Regions from separate parts of the Homo sapiens genome. Here regions 1, 2 and 3 are each linked to region 4. Evidence: fine-mapped expression QTL. A gene starts in region 4. Each other region holds a variant in brackets. All regions are shown on one strand. Distances are from middle to middle.

What was found. PIP is the estimated chance that this variant, and not a neighbour inherited with it, causes the effect. A credible set is the group of variants that fine-mapping cannot tell apart.
Region 1: its variant is the best candidate, but not a certain one, in a credible set for the expression of CD101 in whole blood (INTERVAL, PIP 0.73).
Region 2: its variant is the best candidate, but not a certain one, in a credible set for the expression of CD101 in thyroid (GTEx, PIP 0.90).
Region 3: its variant is the best candidate, but not a certain one, in a credible set for the expression of CD101 in whole blood (TOPMed, PIP 0.59).

What each region holds. Positions count from the first base shown.
Region 1 is chr1:117,048,067-117,053,216 of GRCh38, forward strand. CD101-AS1 (CD101 antisense RNA 1) reads right to left here. Exons shown (of 4, transcript NR_110786.1): 2 at 2,101-2,268. Among named protein-coding and RNA genes, the nearest start is that of CD101-AS1, 8.8 kb to the right of the region's middle. RefSeq lists an enhancer at 3,919-4,008. The variant A/C (reference allele first, on the strand shown) is at 1,904.
Region 2 is chr1:117,021,524-117,026,673 of GRCh38, forward strand. CD101 (CD101 molecule) reads left to right here. Exons shown (of 10, transcript NM_001256106.3): 7 at 50-460; 8 at 3,986-4,381. It overlaps CD101-AS1 (CD101 antisense RNA 1), which reads right to left. Exons shown (of 4, transcript NR_110786.1): 4 at 3,959-5,150. LOC124904386 (a long non-coding RNA gene) reads right to left here and starts at 478. Exons shown (of 2, transcript XR_007066499.1): 1 at 1-478. The variant A/G (reference allele first, on the strand shown) is at 2,903.
Region 3 is chr1:116,975,041-116,980,190 of GRCh38, forward strand. The region is part of intron 7 of PTGFRN (prostaglandin F2 receptor inhibitor); the gene reads left to right. Among named protein-coding and RNA genes, the nearest start is that of CD101, 24 kb to the right of the region's middle. The variant A/C (reference allele first, on the strand shown) is at 2,392.
Region 4 is chr1:116,999,680-117,004,829 of GRCh38, forward strand. It overlaps CD101 (CD101 molecule), which reads left to right and starts at 2,081. Exons shown (of 10, transcript NM_001256106.3): 1 at 2,081-2,181. The coding sequence starts at 2,139.

The sequences.
Region 1 (5,150 bases), 48 kb after region 4:
CCGATGGGGTGGCTGAAATAACAGATACTCATTTTCTCACAGTTCTGTAGGCTGGAAGTCCCAGTCAAAGTGCCAGATGATGTGGATTTTGGTGAGGACTCTCTTTCTGGCTTGTAGACAAGCCACCTTCTCACTGTGTAGTCACATGGCATGACAAAGAAGGCAAACTCTCTGGTCTCTTCTTAGAAGGGCACTAATACCATCATGACCCATCCTCATGACCTCATCTAAACCTAATTATCTCCCAAAGGCCCCATCTTCAAATACCAACACACTGGGGGCTGGGACTTCAATATGTGAATTATGGGAAACATCATTCAGACTATAGCCAAATTGACAGCATAATTAATGAACTGGACTGTGGCTTGTCCTGTACCTATCCAAGGTGTGCACTCTTCATGTCTGTTAACATAGTTCAGATGGAGTAAGTTATCTGAGTGCTACAGGTTTGGTATTTTTTACTGTGCATGTGTACACTTGGGTAGGATTACAACTTAAGAGCAAAACCAGTCAAGTGAACTGAGTAGAATTTCCCCACCTGCCACTTAGCAATGCTCCAGCTCTTCCATCAGAAATAGGTGATCACTGAAGTGTCAGAAACAGTGTCATCATGAAAGAGTGTAAAGATGGAAAGGGATTGCTTAAACATGCATGCAGAGCTCTGGGTGGGAATACAGAAACCCTTGACACCTCCTCCTCTGCAGCTGATCATTAATGCTGTTTCTGTCTGCCCTGAACTCAAGGAGAAATGTGGAGGGTCGAGCAGGGAGGATAGTGGGGAAAGCAGGAGAAGAAGAGAAACAGAGAGAAGAAACAGTGACAATTAGCACATAAGAGTGAGAAGGCAGAAATAAAAGCCAACAAACTACAGAGAAAAAAGAATTGACCAGCTTCTGCCCCATCCAGCTCTGCTCTGAGGCTCAAGTGGGTCTCTCGGATCCACCGTGCCAGCAGTGCTTGCAGCTCCCGAAGAAACTGCTGACCCAGAGAAGGAAGAAGGCTGAGTGCTTGCAGGAAGAAACCCTTCAGACACCAGGGGAGGCAGCAAGCCCCACCACACTGAGGCAAGGCCTGTCTCTGTGGTACAGCAGACAGGAGAAGTCCTGTCTTACTGTGTGTGGAAACAGGTGTGTGGGCTTCCGCTTAGAGTTAGGTGGAAGTTCAGTCTGCAAGGGAGGGTGAGAAAGTACTAAAGAGGAACAGAAGAGCTGGGAAGAGCTAGATCTTTTGAAGGGGATGTCTGCTTCTGCACCACGTGACAGTGGAGGATGCCTTGGATCTTCATCAAAAGAGGTAACTTCCTCTTCTCCTTGAGAGACGCAGCAAATCCCTCACTTACAACTTAGAACCTTCCTAGCTTTCATCCAAATGCATGTAAACCTTGAGAGAGCACCAAGAGGGAGAGAAAGGAGGCGACAGATTCTATAAGAAGTGAGACATGACAGTGTTGTGAGACAAATTGACGTAGGAGATGGTGGTGTGACTGAATCACTAGCCTAGTGTGAGGCGAGGGCCTCTGTTCTGAAGAGCCACCCCACTGAGGCCTCTGGGCTGCTTCCTGTGCTGCTCACCAAGAAAATGCCATGCCATGCTAGGCGCGGTGGCTCACGCCTGTAATCCCAGCACTTTGGGAGGCCGAGGCGGGCGAATCACCTGAGGTCAGGAGTTCGAGACCAGCCTGGCCAACACAGTGAAACCCCATCTCTACTAAAAATACAAAAATTGACCGGGAGTGGTGACGCACGCTTGTAATCCCAGCTACTCAGGAGGCTGAGGCGGGAGAATCGCTTGAACCCAGGAGGCAGAGGTTGCAGTGAGCCGAGATGGTGCCATTGCACTCCAGCCTGGGTGACAGAGCGAGATTCTGTCTCAAAAAAAAAAAAGAAAAGAAAGAAAGAAAATG[A/C]CATGCCAAGTTAAACTCACTTCCTTTTCTGATGTGCTGCTTTCTGCTAGGCTGGTAAGTCATGGGACAGCTATAGATTCCGCATGCATGAACTGCAGCAAGGCCTTTGAACAAGAGGAACAACGTGGACACTATGTGACTCCATGCTTGGGTGAATGATCATACCCAAGGTGTAAAGACCATGGCAACGTGTTTACCTGTAGGAGATCTCTCCAGGTCTTGCTAAAGCACTCTGCCTTGTTGAGCATTTTTATTGGCAACTTGGATGAAGGGAAAGACAGCAGGCTTGTCAAGTTGACACAGAATTAGGAGATGGCACTAATAAGTCAGTTGACAGGAACAAGATTCAAAGAGATCTGGATAACCTAGAATAATGAATCAAAATTAACATGAAATATAGAATCCATAGTTAAGTTTAGGCAATTAGATGCACCAGATAGGGGAGATGAGCTCACGCATGAAAAATGAAAACAGTGTTTTGGTTGATTGCACACTTGATATATATTATTAGCATAACATACTTATTGAAAAAACAGAGAAAAAGATTTAGAGTTTTCCATTTCATATATAAAATGGTCATATCCAAAATAAAGGAGATAATTATCCCACGGCATTTTTCATATTGAATTTTCTTTGGGATGCCTCAAATTAAGCATACATTCATCAAAAAATACTGGCGAAACCCCATCTCTACTAAAAATACAAAAATTAGCCAGGTGTGGTGGCATGTGCCTGTAATTCCAGCTACTCGGGAGGCTGAGGCAGGAGAATCGCTTGAACCCAGGAGGCAGAGGTTGCAGTGAGCTGAGATCGTGCCACTGCACTCCAGCCTGGGCAAAAGAGTGAGACTCTGTCTCAAAAAAGAAAAAGCAAAATACTGGTGAGGGGGTGTCGGAGGGAGAAAAGTAATTGATGCAGTTGGACAAGTTTCTCTGGGCAAAGAGAATGCATGTGAAGTGCAGAGAGGATGAAATAGTCATATTCATATATTTTAAAGTGATGTAAAAATGGATCAGGTGTATTTTGTTTAATTCCACATGACAAGAAAGTGGAAGTTTCAGACAGAAAGATTTCTGCTCAATATGCATTAGAATTAACTAACATTTCGACACACCCAAACAGAACTTGCTATAACCAGAAGTTTCTATGCTGAATCCATTAGGGATGCTGTGGAAGGGATTTGGGAGGATGCATTAGGTGGCTTTAGGGTTCCTTCTACCCTATGATTTCATCCATTCCATTTAACAGATACTTATGGAATGTTTACATGCTGTGTATACAGTGATTAGTGAGCCAAACAGAAATAAGTCCCTGCTTTCTTGGCAATTACACATATAGTCCATGGAGAAGACAGACGATAAACAAGTCAACAGACAACTCTGAAATAAATGTTATGTGGAAAGCAAACCGGATACTGAGAGAGAACAAGGAAGAACCTTTGTAGATAAAGTAGTCAGGGCAAGTCTCACTGAGATGGTGCTTGCTGAGACCTACAGGATGAAGGGCTAAGTTTTTAAAGAACTGAGGAAAGCATTCCAGGCAGAAAGCACAATATGAATGCAGGCCTTAGGGTAATACAAAGCTTGGCACACTGAGGAACAGAAAACAGGTTAGGGCGGCTGCAATATAATGGGTGAGGAGTGGCGTGGCTGTCTGTGAGAGTGAAAGCAGGAAGGGCCAAACCGTGCAGCGCCCGTAGGAACCAAAAGGATGACTTAACCTTTTTCTCTAAGTTTAACAGAAAGTCACTGAAGAGTTATAGGCAAAGTAACAGAACCTGACTCATGTTTTAAAAGGTTGATGAGTTCTTTAAGGCCATTTTAGTACTAAAAAATAGCAGCAAAAACCAGAGGCTGCTCTGCTCTGGCTCCCAGGTTAACTCAGAAAGGAAAAGGAGGGAGAACCAGGAAGAACTCTGCCAGAGTTTTCTCAGCTACTAAGATCCCAGCATCCAAGGAGGCTTAAAAACTTCATGGCAAAAGTCTTCAGAGCATTGGGTAGTATTGTTTACGCTCAGCTTGAGAACCTGGAATCCACCTTAGTGCCATTTGTTGCTTTCCAGAAAAAATGCAACTCAGAAACAAAAAGAAAACAGAAAACAAAACAAACAAGAGGCCGGGTGCAGTGGCTCACGCCTGTAGTCCCAACACGCTGGGAGGCCAAGGTGGGCAATCACTTGAGGCCAGGAGTTCGAGACCAACCTAGCTAACATGTTGAAGCCCCGTCTCTACTAAAAATACAAAAATTAGCTGGGCATAGTGGCATGCGCCTGTAATCTCAGCTACTCGGGAGGCTGAGGCAGGAGAACTGCTTGAGCCCGGGAGGCGAAGATTGTAGTGAACCGAGATCATGTCACTGCACTCCAGCCTGGGCGACAGAGTGAGACTCTGTCTCAAAAAACAAGGAAAAAAAAAAGAAATACAACTCAGGATGGCCACCAGAAAACAAGTACATAGCCACTGGAGGTCTTCAGGTTCTAGGTTATCTTGAATGTGTAAAGCAGCGAAGGTTTTAGGGAACAAATGAGCAGTGAGGGTTGAGGAGAAGGTTAGAATTAAGCAGAATAACTGGTATAGGGTTAGGGGGAAGAGGGAAAAAACAGCTTGGTATAAAACTTGAATTAGATACCAAAAAAATGGGTAGGAGGACATGAATAAGAAAGAAAGGATTAATTAGAGGAAAGTTAGGATTGAATAGCTAAGATGAGAACTAGGCAAGTTTAAGAGGTGTTCTGATGAAGGTACAGAGACGTGGGGCCTATGACTGCTCTACTGCTGACAGTATAATAACATTATATGCCATATAAAACAATGGGAGAAAAAAAGAAAAAAACACCAATAATCCTACCATCTTAAATAAGCATTGTTATTATTATTTTGGTACATCCTCTTTGTTATTGTTTTCTATGTGACTGCTTTCAATATCTTTATTGGATTTTAAAAATCGTAACAGAGCAATACATGCTAGTTGTAGAAAATAAAAACTGCACCAATCTCCCAACCCAACCTCCCAGAGGTATATAAATGGAATCATACAGCATATAGTCTTGAAAGTTAATAGTTTTGATGCCAGGTGTGATGGTGTACACATGATCCCAGCCCTTTGGGAGGCCAACGCGGCAGACTGCTTGAGCTCAGGAGTTTGAGACCAGCCTGGGCAACATGGTGAAACCCTGTCTCTACAAAAAATACAAAAATTAGCCAGCTGTGGTGGTGTGCTCTGGTAGTCCCAGTTACTCGGGAGGCTG
Region 2 (5,150 bases), 22 kb after region 4:
TAACTTTCTATTTCATAGCAAAGTAACTGTTTCATTTTTTTAAATTTAGAGAGCAAGCTAAAAGTGAATTCAAGGAGTCAAGTCCAAGAGCTCTCCATCAACTCCAACACTGATATAGAATGTAGCATCTTGTCCCGGTCCAATGGAAACCTTCAGTTAGCCATTATTTGGTATTTTTCTCCTGTTTCCACTAATGCCTCTTGGCTAAAGATCCTGGAGATGGACCAAACCAATGTTATAAAAACTGGGGATGAGTTTCACACCCCACAGAGAAAACAAAAATTTCATACTGAGAAGGTTTCCCAAGACTTATTTCAGCTGCACATTCTGAATGTGGAAGACAGCGATCGGGGCAAATATCACTGTGCTGTGGAGGAATGGCTCCTGTCTACAAATGGCACTTGGCACAAGCTTGGAGAAAAGAAGTCAGGACTAACAGAATTGAAACTCAAGCCCACAGGTAAACCTTGCGAGTGTATCCTCACAATGTCTGTCTGTCTGACGGCTGTTTTCTCTTGGGCAGCTGTTCTATGGAGTGATTATGTGGAAGTAAAAATATGACCTAAAGTCATAGGAACAGTATCTACCTACACATGACTGCAAGACCGAGTAGTCCACCAAAGGAGGGGAGGTCACTTAAGGCAATCCAATCTGAGGTTTTGGGGAGCTGAGGTAGGAGCAATATCCCTTTGATTGGTTTGCTTCTCAACCTGGCAGCCTGGTCTGTGCAGCTACCCAGGGTATCGTATCTCCAGATCTCTATCATAACAAGCTGTGTCATTCCAGTGGGGCTCTACTGTAATTTGGCAGAGAAAGAGTAATACGAAGCATATTTCTCCCACTGTGAACAGAAACTGTACAACTCTATGGGGATGTGTGGAGAAATTGCTTCTCAACATTTAGCTGCCTAAACATAAGGCAAATAAGAGTAGTTAACTGTTGGAATGGCTTACTGAGGGAGTCTCCTCTTCCTCAGGAGATCTTTAAAAATGTAATGGAAGTTCCGCACTGGTCTAAGAGTGCCACTGTCTAAATGTGGGCAGGGTTGATTAGGTCTCTCAGCATAGGTTAGGTCACTTCCAGTGTTGATTAAAATTAAATGAATGTCACAGCCAAGGTTCAGGAACTGGCCAAGATCCTACAGCACAATGCAGAGAAGTTGATCTAATTTGGTGCTTGAAATACTATTTTCAAGGTAACGCTAAAAAAAAATTAGATGATAATTGAGCATTACTATGTGTTAGGCAGTGGAATACAAAGATAAAGAAGGCACAGCCCTGGCCCTTAAGGAGCTCCCAGTCTGGTGGGACAACAAGGGCAGAACAGCAGCTTGGTTTGGGGTCTCTTCCTGCCCTCTGGCTTCCCTTCTGTATGTTCTTCAAGCCCCTTCTTCTCCCTGCTAAATGTGTGTGTTCCTCAGGGATAGATCCTGGGCCTGTTTTGCTTCTTATTCTCTGCTTTCCTCAGAATTTCTTAAACACTGCCCTGGTTTCAACTACCACCTTCTAGATGATAACTCTGAGATTTTGTGCTTAGCCCTGATCTCCTGAGCTCCAAGCCTTCATACCCAACTGCCTGCTGTACATTTCTACTTGGATGCCCCCATACTCAGCATGCCCTAAATTGCACTTAGCATCTCTGCCATCTCACCATGCTCATTTGCACTTCTGCATTTCCCATCTGTGTGATTGGCATTCTGTCTCCCAGTCATCCACACCAAACTCTTGACCACATGTGCATGGCCGTCTTCAGGAGGCAGCCACTGCTTAGCTCAAGTGCTTCCCATGTAGAAATGTGGGCTCCGTGTTGTCAGATCTTTTTGCATATCTAGAGATGCCTAAAATCTTTTTTGGTGACATCTCCCAGTTTGAGAATGTCCACAACTAATTCACTTCTTCTTTTTCTTTTTTTTTAGACGGAGTCTTGCTCTGTTGCTCAGGCTGGAGTCAGTGGTATGATCTTAGCTCACTGCAACCTCCTCCTCCTGGGTTCAAGCAATTCTCCTGCCTCAGCCTCCAGAGTAGCTGGGACTACAGGTGTGTGCCACCATGCCTGGCTAATTTTTGTAATTTTAGTAGAGACAGGGTTTTACCATGTTGCTCAGGCTGGTCTTGAACTCCTGACCTCAGGTGATCCACCTGCCTTGGCCTCCCAAAGTGCTGGGATTACAGGCGTGAGCCACTGCGCCCAGCCCAGTTCTCTTAAAATACTGCAAGTGTCAAGCAGAACATACCTGTGGGCTTGGTGTGGCTGTGGACTTCCGGTTGTGCACGTCATTTAGGGAACAAGTTAACCAAGAGGCCCCAGAAAGATGCTGAGAATGACTGGTCAGAGTTGTAAGGGGGATATTTTCTCTGAGGTTGGAAGAAAAGAAGTCAATTTCAAGGAGAAATTGGACTCCAGTAACAAAAACCACATAGAGGACAGAAAAGGACTAGAGGGTCCCTTGAACTGGGAAATTGGGCCCTGGCCAAGTAAAGTGATGGGATTGGAAGCCAGATCACAATAAAGTAGGAAGTAATTTGAGACAAGGAAACAGCAACAGTATTCCATGTGCTAATATTCCACGTGCTACTCCATGAAGGAAAGGGGAGAGTAAAAATGGTAACTAAGAAAGAGTCCAAGATCAGACAGAATTATTCTCTTAAAGACAGATTAATAAATGTGTTTGAGTCAGGCACAGTGGCTCATGCCTATAATCCCAGCACTTTGGGAGGCCAAGGTGGGCGGATCACCTGAGGTCAGGAGTTCGAGACCAGCCTGGCCAACATGGTGAAACCCTGTCTCTACTAAAAATAAAAAAGTTAGCCAGGCATGGTGGCCCATGCCTGTAATCCCAACTGCTCGGGAGGCTGAGGCAGGATAATCGCTTGAACCCGGGAGGCAGAGGTTGCGGTGAGCC[A/G]AGATTGTGCCACTGCACTCTAGCCTGGGCGACAGAGCGAGACTCCGTCTCAAAAAATAAATAAAATAAAAATAAATAAATAAATAAATAAATAAATAAATGTGTTTGTAGTGGAATTGAAAATGTAATGCACACTATAATTTCTTTATTTTGTTTGTAACTACTTTGGCTGTTATTCTAAATCCTCACCTGCTGGTTAGCAAGGGGAAAAAAAGTAAATGTCAAAATCTCTTTAAAACTCAGTCTAATCCAATCATCTAAATAGCTCCCATGGATGGCCTTCTAACACTTGCATCAAAATGTTCAGTCTCTTGGATGGCGTCCTCTCTCTCTGCGTTTACACCCAAGATAATATCTGGGTGTATGGGAGGAGAGTAATTTGCTAAGAATGAGGGGTACTGGTGGAATACATGGCTTGAGGGAGCTGCTAAAAGTTGTGAATGACCACTTTGGGAAGTAGAGGAGGAGTGAATCAAGGGTAAGTAAAAGCAGCAGGCAGAGGGCCCTGCAGAAGCTGTGTAGTTTTCAATGGCAGGGTCCAGCAGGCAAGCAGTTGGGCTAAAGAAGGAAAGAGGCTGGTTTGATTCCTAGCAGAGAATGTCCTGGCAAATGTGAGAGAAAAACAGGGACCAAGGACAAGAATTAAAATGAATGTGGCTGGACGTGGTGGCTCATGCCTGTAATCCCAACACTTTGGGAGGCTGAGGTGGGCAGATCACTTGAAGCCAGGAGCTCAAGAGCAATCTGGCCAACATGGTGAAACCCCGTCTCTACTAAAAATACAAAAATCAGCTGGGCATGGTGGCACACGCCTGTAATCCCAGCCACTTGGGAGGCTGAGGCAGGAGAATTGCTTGAACCCAGGAGGCAGTGGTTGCAGTGAGCTGAGATCATGCCACTGCACTCTGGCCTGGGTGACAGAGCAAGACTCTGTCTCAAAAAATAAAAATAATAAAAAAAATAAAATGAATGCACTGATGTCTAAAGAATATAAGATCTTCCCAGTGAGAACTAGATTTTTCAGAGGTGGTATCCAAATCTGAAAGTCTGCATTCTCTAATTTACTGCCATTTTATTTTCTAGGAAGTAAGGTACGTGTCTCCAAAGTGTACTGGACCGAAAATGTGACTGAGCACAGAGAAGTGGCCATCCGCTGCAGCCTGGAGAGTGTAGGCAGCTCAGCCACTCTGTACTCTGTGATGTGGTACTGGAACAGAGAAAACTCTGGAAGTAAATTGCTGGTGCACTTGCAACATGATGGCTTGCTGGAGTATGGGGAAGAGGGGCTCAGGAGGCACCTGCACTGTTACCGTTCATCCTCTACAGACTTTGTCCTGAAGCTTCATCAGGTGGAGATGGAGGATGCAGGAATGTACTGGTGTAGGGTGGCAGAGTGGCAGCTCCATGGACACCCAAGCAAGTGGATTAATCAAGCATCCGATGAGTCACAGCGGATGGTGCTCACGGTGCTGCCTTCAGGTAACCAGGGGTTTATCTACCGCGAGCTCATGGTCAGGAGAATACATGGCTCTCCTCTTATCCTCTCCCTCTCACCTATCTTTTGCTCCTTCTGAAGACAATTTTCAGACTGAAGACAATTTTCAGGTTCCCTAAAGAAGATGACTTTGCTGTCTCTCTCAATAGTAACTCATTTGAACAAACAAGGTCCACATGAGATTTTGGCATAGACACTTAAATATCGGGAGCATCTGACAGGTCCATGTCTTTCTGCTGGGGTTCAGGGAGAAGGTGGGAGGTGAGCAATAAGCTAAGCTTACTGAGGGAAAGGGCCATTGGAGAAGTAGGGGTGTGGTCTTGGTGCCAGACACCAGGAAGCACAAAGGGAAAATCATCAATAAAGGTAACAATCCTAAGAGACCAGCTAGCTTTAGTGACACTGCTTAGGAGGGACAGAATGCTGTTGAGAACATATGGGAACATCTAAGAAGTAGGGATAGGTGCATCCCAGCGCAGCAGGGCTTCCAGAGGGGAAGTCGAAGCTATCCGATTTGTTCCTTGAGGTGGTCCATCATTGTTTTTCCCTGTTCATTCCTCAGCAGAAGTTTTCTCCTGAGTGCCAGGCCAAAATGTTTTTTCTATCAGCCTTTTTCTTCTTTCCAACAATTACAGGAAGTCCCATACTCATGAGCACATTCCGTACATGTTTTCCCAGTGGAATTAATAGGCTCTGTAGAATCGGCAGTTTTTGCAGTAGAATAAATAGATAAGAACTGTAAAAAGTATACAG
Region 3 (5,150 bases), 25 kb before region 4:
CCTATGGTCTTAGCAAACGGCACACCAGGAGATTATATCCTGCACCTGGCTCGGAGGGTCCCATGCCCACAGAGCCTCGCTCATTGCTAGCACGGCAGTCTGAGATCGAACTGCAAGGTGGCAGCGAGGCTGGGGGAGGGGCACCCGCCATTGCTGAGGCTTAAGTAGGTAAACAGAGCTGCAGGGAAGCTCGAACTGGGTGGAGCCCACTGCAGCTCAAGGAGGCCTGCCTGCCTCTGTAGACTCCAACTCTGGGGGCAGGGCATAGCCAAACAAAAGGCAGCAGAAACCTCTGCAGACTTAAATGTCCCTGTCTGACAGCTTTGAAGAGAGTAGTGCTTCTCCCAGCATGCAGCTTGAGATCTGAGAACGGACAGACTGCCTCCCCAAGTGGGTCCCTGACCCCCGAGTAGCCTAACTGGGAGGAACCCCCCAGTAGGGGCAGACTGACACCTCACATGGCCGGGTACCCCTCTGAGACGAAGCTTCCAGAGGAACGATCAGCAGAAACATTTGCTGTTCAGCAATATTCGCTGTTCTACAACCTCCACTGCTGATACCCAGGCAAACAGGGTCTGGAGTGGACCTCCAGCAAACTCCAACAGACCTGCAGCTGAGGGTCCTGACTGTTAGAAGGAAAACTAACAAACAGAAAGGACATCCACACCAAAACCCCATCTCTACGTCACCACCATCAAAGACCAAAGGTAGATACAACCACAAAGATGGGGAAAAAACAGAGCAGAAAAGCTGAAAATTCTAAAAATCAGAGCACCTCTCCCCCTCCAAAGGAACGCAGCTCTTCTCCAGCAACGGAACAAAGCTGGACCGAGAATGATTTTGACAAGTTGAGAGAAGAAGGCTTCAGATGATCAAACTTCTCTGAGCTAAAGGAGGAAGTTCGAATCCATCGCAAAGAAGCTAAAAACGTTGAAAAAAGATTAGACGAATGGCTAAATAGAATAACCAGTGTAGAGAAGTCCTTAAATGACCTTATGGAGCTGAAAACCATGGCATGAGAACTACGTGACAAATGCATAAGCTTTAGTAGCTGATTCGGTCAACTGGAAGAAAGGGTATCAGTGATTGAAGATCAAACGAATGAAATGAAGCGAGAAGAGAAGTTTAGAGAAAAAAGAGTAAAAAGAAATGAACAAAGCCTCCAAGAAATATGGGACTATGTGAAAAGACCAAATCTGTGTCTGATTGGTGTACCTGAAAGTGATGGGGAGAATGGAACCAAGTTGGAAAACACTCTGCAGGATATTGTCCAGTAGAACTTCCCCAACCTAGCAAGGCAGGCCAACATTCAACTTCAGGAAATACAGAGAACGCCACAAAGATACTCCTCGAGAAGAGGAACTCCAAGACACAAAACTGTCAGATTCACCAAAGTTGAAATGAAGGAAAAAATGTTAAGGGCTGCCAGAGAGAAAGGTTGGGTTACCCACAAAGGGAAGCCCATCAGATTAACAGCGGATCTCTTGGCAGAAACTCTACAAGCCAGAAGAGAGTCGGGGCCAATATTTAACATTCTTAAAGAAAAGCATTTTCAACCCAGAATTTCATATCCAGCCAAACTAAGCTTCAGAAGTGAAGAAGAAATAAAATCCTTTACAGACAAGCAAATGCTGAGAGATTTTGTCACCACCAGGCCTGCCCTACAAGAGCTCCTGAAGGAAGCACTAAACATGGAAAGGATCAGCCGGTACCAGCCACTGCAAAAACATGCCAAATTGTAAAGACCATTGATGCTAGGAAGAAACTATATCAAGTAACGAGCAAAATAACTAGCTAACATCATAATGACAGGATCAAATTCACACATAACAATATTAACCTTAAATGTAAATGGGCTAAATGCTCCAATTAAAAGACACAGACTGGCAAATTGGATAAAGACTCAAGACCCATCAGTGTGCTATATTCAGGAGACCCATCTCGCGTGCAGAGACACACATAGGCTCAAAATAAAGGGATGGAGGAAATTCTACCAAGCAAATGGAAACAAAAAAAGGCAGGGGTTGCAATCCTAGTCTCTGATAAAACAGACTTTAAACCAACAAAGATCAAAAGAGACAAAGAAGGCCATTACATAATGGTAAAGGGATCAATTCAACAAGAAGAACTAACTATCCTAAATATATATGCACCCAATACAGGAGCACCTAGATTCATAAAACAAGTCCTTAGAGACCTACAAACAGACTAAGACTCCACACAATAATAATGGGAGACTTTAACACCCCACTGTCAGCATTAGACAAATCCATGAGACAGAAAGTTAACAAGGATGTCCAGGAATTGAACTCAGCTCTGCACCAAGTGGACCTAATAGACATCTACAGAACTCTCCACCCCAAATCAACAGAATATACATTCTTCTCAGCA[A/C]CACATCGCACTTATTCCAAAATTTACTTCCAAAATAGTTGGAAGTAAAGCACTCCTCAGCAAATGTAAAAGAACAGAAATTATAACAATCTCTCAGACCACACTGCAATCAGACTAGAACTCAGGTTAAGAAACTCACTCAAAATCGCTCAACTACATGGAAACTGAACAACCTGCTCCTGAATGACTACTGGGTACATAATGAAATGAAGACAGAAATAAAGATGTTCTTTGAAACCAATGAGAACAAAGACACAACATACCAGAATCTCTGGGACACATTCAAAGCAGTGTGTAGAGGGAAATTTATAGCACTAAATGCCCACAAGAGAAAGCAGGAAAGATCTAAAATTGACACCCTAACATCACAATTAAAAGAACTAGGGAAGCAAGAGCAAATAAATTCAAAAGCTAGCAGAAGGCAAGAAATAACTAAGATCAGAGCGGAGCTGAAGGAGATAGAGACACAAAAAACCCTTCAAAAAAATCAATGAATCCAGGAGCTGGTTTTTTGAAAAGATCAACAAAATAGATAGACCACTAGCAAGACTAATAAAGAAGAAAAGAGAGAAGAATCAAATAGATGCAATAAAAAATGATAAAGGGGATATCACCACTGATCCCACAGAAATACAAACTACCATCAGAGAATACTATAAATACCTCTACGCAAATAAACTAGAAAATCTAGAAGAAATGGATGAATTCCTGGACACATACACCCTCCCAAGACTAAACCAGGAAGAAGCGGAATCCCTGAATAGACCAATAACAGGCTCTGAAGTTGAGGCAATAATTAATAGCCTACCAACCAAAAAAAGTCCAGGAGCAGACGGATTCACAGCCGAATTCTACCAAGGTACAAGGAGGAGCTGGTACCATTCCTTCTGAAAGTATTCCAATCAATAGAAAAAGAGGGAATCCTCCCTAACTCATTTTATGAGGCCAGCATCATCCTGATACCAAAGCCTGGCAGAGACACAACAAAAAAAGAGAATTTTAGACCAATATCCCTGATGAACATCGATGCAAAAATCCTCAATAAAATACTGGCAAACCGAATCCAGCAGCACATCAAAAGGCTTATACACCATGATCAAATGGGCTTCATCCCTGGGATGCAAGGCTGGTTCAACATATGCAAATCAATAAATGTAATCCAGCATATAAACAGAACCAAAGACAAAAACCACATGATTATCTCAATAGATGCAGAAAAGGCCTTTGACAAAATTCAACAGTCCTTCATGCTAAAAACTCTCAATAAATTAGGTATTGATGGGACGTATCTCAAAATAATAAGAACTATTTATGACAAACCCACAGCTAATATCATACTGAATGGGCAAAAACTGGAAGCATTCCCTTTGAAAACTGGCACAAGACAGGGATACCCTCTCTCACCACTCCTATTCAACATATTGTTGGAAGTTCTGGCCAGGGCAATCAGGCAGGAGAAAGAAATAAAGGGTATTCAATTAGGAAAAGAGGAAGTCAAATTGTCCCTGTTTGCAGATGACATGATTGTATATTTAGAAAACCCCATCGTCTCAGCCCAAAATCTTAAGCTGATAAGCAACTTCAGCAAAGTCTCAGGATACAAAATCAATGTGCAAAAATCACAAGCATTCTTACACACCAATAACAGACAAACAGAGAGCCAAATCATGAGTGAACTCCCATTCACAGTTGCTTCAAAGAGAATAAAATACCTAGGAATCCAACTTACAAGGGATGTGAAGGACCTCTTCAAGGAGAACTGCAAACCACTGCTCAACAAAATAAAACAGGACAGAAACAAATGGAAGAACATTCCATCCTCATGGATAGGAAGAATCAATATCATGAAAATGGCCATACTGCCCAAGGTAATTTATAGATTCAATGCCATCCCCATCAAGCTACCAATGGCTTTCTTCACAGAATTGGAAAAAACTACTTTAAAGTTCATATGGCACCAAAAAAGAGCCCGCATTGCCAAGTCAATCCTAAGCCAAAAGAACAAAGCTGGAGGTATCACGCTGCCTGACTTCAAACTATACTACAAGGCTGCAGTAACCAAAACAGCATGGTGCTGGTACCAAAACAGAGATATAGACCAATGGAAAAGAACAGAGCCCTCAAAAATAATACCACACATCTACAACTATCTGATCTTTGACAAACCTGAGAAAAACAAGACATGGGGAAAGGATTCCCTATTTAATAAATGGTGCTGGGAAAACTGGCTAGCCATATGTAGAAAGCTGAAACTGGATCCCTTCCTTACACCTTATACAAAAATTAATTCAAGATGGATTAAAGACTTAAATGTTAGACCTAAAACCATAAAAACCCTAGAAGAAAACCTAGGCAGTACCATTCAGGACATAGGCATGGGCTAGGACTTCATGTTTAAAACACCAAAAGCAATGGCAACAAAAGCCAAAATAGACAAATGGGATCTAATTAAACTAAAGAGCTTCTGCACAGCAAAAGAAACTACCATCAGAGTGAACAGGCAACCTACAGAATGGGAGAAAATTTTTGCAGTCTACTCATCTGACAAAGGGCTAATATCCAGACTCTACGAAGAACTCAAATTTACAAGAAAAAAACAACCCCATCAAAAAGTGGGCAAAGGATATGAGCAGACACTTCTCAAAAGAAGACATTTATGCAGCCAACAGACACATGAAAAAACGCTCATCATCACTGGCCATCAGAGAAATGCAAATCAAAACCACAATGCAACACCATCTCACACCAGTTAGAATGGC
Region 4 (5,150 bases):
CCTCAAACTTCATTCCAACAAGATAGTACAGCCTGTGTGTTACTATTCATGCCACACGGTTTTTCCCCAACTGTACCTTGGCCCCCTGCCTCTCTAGATGACTCATTGACTCACCTGGCCCAGCCCAATCCATCTTGACCTTCCCTCCTGCCTACCAATTTTCCCCACCCCCTATAGGTGCCCCACTGATTGTTGACACATTGCATTGTGATTATCTGATTTAAGTGGAAGCTTCCTGAGAACTCTAGCACTAGCGTAGTATTAGTCTAGGTTCAGGGCCAACTGTTGCATTTAGATACTCCTCTGCCATCCTTGATACCTGGGTTCACATCGGTGTAACTGCCCATTAGCGTAACTGCCCAACAGGTTTCTCCTTGCCTGCTGCCCAGATAGAACAGACTTATCAAGACAGGAGAATTGCAATAGAGAAAGAGTTTAATTCACACAGAACCAGCTAAATGGGAAACCAGAGTTTTATTACTCAAATCAGTCTCCCCGGAAATTCAGAGACTGGAGTTAGTAAGGATAATTTGGCAGGCCAGGGAGTGGGGAGTGCTGATTGGTCAGGTAGGAGATGAAATCACAGGGGATCAAAGGGGGTTCTTGCAGTCTTCCGTTCCTAAGTGGGATCAAAGAACTGGTGGAACCAGATCACCAGCCTGGATGGTGTCAGCTGGTGCATCAGGATGCAGGGTCTGAAAAATACCTTGAGCACCAATTTAGGTTTTACAATAGTGATGTTATCCCTAGGAACAGTTGGGGAGGTTGGAATTGTGTGGCCTCTGGCTGCATGACTCCTAAACCATAATTTCTAATGTTGTGGCTAATTTGTTAGTCTTACTAGGGAAGTCTGCTCCCCAGGCAAGAAGGGGGTTTGTTTCCAGAAAGGGCTGTTATCCTCTTTGTTTCAAAATTAAACTAAGCTAAATTCCTCCCAAAGTTAGTTTGGCCTACAACCAGGAATTAACAAGGGCAGCTTGGAAGTTAGAAGCAAGATGGAGATGGTGAGGTCAGATCCCTTTCACTGTCATAACTTTCTCACTGTTACAATTTTTGCAAAGGCAGTTTCACAGGGCAGATGAAGATTTACTTAAATGTCTCATGATGGTGATGATGGTAGCTAATATTCATTGAGCAGTTACTATGTACCAGATATTGTTCTAAGTGCTTTAAATAAATTAGCTTGAAACTATCATTCTCAGCAAACTATCTCAAGAACAAAAAACCAAACACTGCATGTTCTCACTCATAGGTGGGAATTGAACAGTGAGAACACTTGGACACAGGAAGGGGAACATCACACACCGGGGCCTGTCATAGGGTCGGGGGAAGGGGGAGGGAAAGCATTAGGAGATATACCTAATGTAAATGACGAGTTAATGGGTGCAGCACACCAACATGGCACATGTATACATATGTAACAAATTTGCACGTTGTGCACATGTACCCTAGAACTTAAAGTATAATAATAATAAAAAAAAGTAAAATACAAAAAAAAAGAAATAAAAAAATAATTAAAAAATTAGCTCATTTGGCATTCACAGTAATCTTACAGGGTACCTACTATTAGTATCCTCATTTTAGCAATGAGGGTTAGGAAAAGTTAATTAAGTTTTCTAAGATTGCACAGTTACTAAAACTAGAATCTGCATGCAAACCCAGGCAGCCTGACTCTAGAGCCTGTAACCTTCAGCACCACCTCATGTCGCCCCAAGTTCATGTTTTTCAGGGGCCTTCTCCCATTTCTCAGTCATTTCCTCTCTCAAGAGAGGAGGAGAAGGAAGGGCCAAGAAGACAACATTGCTGGTGCCTTTTTTATTTATTCAGTTTACCTAAATTCTCTCATCATTACCAAATGACACATACTGTGAGCCAGGTTGAGACCCATCTTTTCTTAGTTTTATCGATATCTGTTTACTTAACCACAAAGATAACTTTTTTACTCCCAAATTTGAGTGATTAGTAAAGAGCTACATAATGTAACCAGTTTTGCTTTTCACAAGACATCTCTATTTCTCAGTGGGCTGAAAACCACACTTTTGCTTCCTCTTTACTTTGCAGTGAGAGCACAGCATTTGTCACTCAACCTCTGAATGTTAGTGACACTATTGGGACGAAAAAGGACTGTGCTGGCCCAAATGGCAGGCATCTCATATGTGGCATCTTTCTTTCTCCTTCTGAGTAAGTTTCATAATCCTTTATGTTTCTCTTGTCACAGGAGTTCATCAACTCAGGGTGCTGAGTGATGGAACAGGACAATTTGGTCTCTACAGGAACAACTATGCCATATATTTCTGATGTTAGCAATAATTTTTGACTTACTAATGACAGTTCTTGGCTTACCTAGACATCCTTGAGTTCCAGGGAGTCACAATGCTTGGTTGAGTCCCATGCACAAGATTCCATTGGTTTTAACATTTGTGTGTGTTGCCAGATCTGTCAGTTTTGCTTGGCCCTGGCTTTACTCATCTTCCTGGGCCGATCATCCCAAGAGACAGTAAAAAAGCTTTGTGTCCCAAACTGAGAGGAGACCTTAAGGTTTGCCTGATATTAAGGCTTGATGGGATAACTATGCCTTGCAGATATGACTGGATGGAAAGAAAGGTTATGAAAGTACTTAGTAGTTTTAGACTATGCTAAAAGAAGGTTCTAGATTTCACCTGCGAGTGGAAGTGGAAATTGACTACTGAGAGACTGAGAAATGAACAGGAAGATTCACTTGGCTCTACTGAGGGCCATGCAGAGGGGCTTGCCTGATCTAGGGGCATTTATCTATGTTTGAATAGGATGGAAGAAGAGAAAATTTGGAGGTAGAAGGGAGAGTCAGATGAGTTGAGCAGGTAATGGAATAGTTTCAAACCAGATAGCAGGTACTTTTTATGCTACAGTTTTCATTAACATCTGGTAAAGAGAATAGACTCCATCTCAGAATAATGTTTAAAATGCATAAAATAAAATGCATAGAATTACAGAGGAAATCAGTCACATTGAAATACAGGTATCAAAATATTTTAAATAAATTATAATGCAGTAATTTATTTGCTTCTTATTTATGCATTACATAACAAAATCTACAGGTAGGTCTTTTAACCACCAAACTTCAAAGTAATGATGAGTATAAATAACATTTCAATATATCTTAAGTAGTTGTAATGTGATATGAAGATATCTGTGGTTGTCTACATACATAACTGAAGAAAATACTAAATTTCCATTAGAGGCAAAAATGAAAATAAAGATGTAAGATTATTTTTCACCCTAGTTTATGGACCCTTTAATCCTACATGTGGACCCAGTTAAGAACTCTTGCTTTATAGCTGGGCATGGTGGCACATACCTGTGGCCCTAGCTACTTGGGAGGCTGAGGTGGGAGAATCGCTTGAACCTGGGAGGTGGAGGTTGCAGTGAGCCAAGATTGAGCCACTGCACTCCAGCCTGGGTGACAGAGTGAGATTCCATCTAAAAAAACAAACAAACAAACAAAACTCTTGCTTTAGAGAGACTGGATGGAGCCAGTGCAGGGACCCGAATGGCTGGGATGATTGGGGAACTAAACCAAGCTGCATTTGGTGTGACCAGGACTATGGCTGAAGAATTAAAAGAAAAGAATACAGCATTCAGCACAAAGAGGTTGCTTAATAAACATTGATTGAGTTGAATTGTGCTCATGTCTCTAGGTACATATGATAGTGTGAGGTTAAGAGTCAGACCTAGGGCCTGCAGGGGAAGTTACTGGGACCACTTGCTGGGTGACGGATGCCTGCCAGACTGGCTTGGCGGGTGTTGATGGATAGGTGCACTGGTGGGATCCTTTGGGGGCTGGTGTGTTTTTGTTGTTTGGTTAAGTTGTCTGAGTGTGATTCTCAAGTGTATGTGCTTTGTGTATTTGAATTCTATGTTTGCTATGTATATAGGAGGAAACTGGGTTTACATTGTGCAATAATTCATAGAATTGCAAATTCTGTCTCTTTTTTTGGTAAGCAGGCTAGAAGCCCTGGGGGAAGGAAAGTAGTAATCAAGGCTCAAAAAGGGGAAGCTGGAAGCTTTTCCTTAACCCATTTAAACAATTACCTAAACTGGGTTATACATTTACTTCTTCTAAATTCTGACTCATCTGAAGCACTAATTTTGTGTAGAAGCACAGTTTTTATGTGAAGAATACATAAATCAGGAAGTTACTGGAAAAAGCTTTAGAAGTCTGCTGTTTGTCCTTACAAATATAGAGGGGAATTGAAATAAATTATTTAAATAACGATCTATTGATCAATTACATTGGTTAGCAAATTTACACTTTGTCCCAATTTTTTTTTAGTAAATATAAGGACTGAACAATCCTGATAGAAAATGGTGCCATATGAGATTAATGTCATGGGTAAATGAGTTCTCGGATTTAGCAGTTAGCTTTGTCTGCTTGATCTATTTCCCCCACCCAAACTAGCTGCCCTACAAATAATGGCCATTAATATGGCAGGGTTTGGGGGAAGGGCTATTGTCTGTCTTACTGAGTTTGCATTCATGAAAAATAAAAAAGATTCCACTTAGTATGGATGGAAGCTATCTCAGCCTCCAAGCATATAGGGTTTTTGAATGTGAAAAGAGAAAGAAGCTGCTTGTTATGTTGGCTATTCCTGAGGTAGGTTTTGTATAAGGTAGCATTATTTGAAACTGCTGTTTTTTTGGTATAAAAAGTGCTCAAGTATGGACCATTTTATACAGTTCAACCTAATCGTTTTCATTCAAATAATACTGCAGTGGTAAATTTGACAATTCCAGTGATATTTTTAAAGAAAGTCAATACCATCGAGGAATTTTTGGTGTTTTGAAAGCATGATTCTAATGTTAGTATGTCAGTGCCAAGCTTTGTACTCATCAGCCAACAAGAATATGAGCTACTATTCAAAAGTAGCTAACCCTCTACCCATTAAAAGAGAGAGCAAGAGGGCAGTCCTCACAGGTGTTTTTCGGAGGGTGGATGATATGTACTTGAAAAAACCCAGAGAGAATATATTTATAGTAAGATGCTTAAGCTTATGGCCCCAGTGCATAGCCATTTGAGTTGATCTCTGCCAGTCATGCCTTCTACCTGAAAAATACCTTTGAAATCTCCACACTATTTCTTTCACTTTTCTCAGAAAGTAGTATGTCTTAGA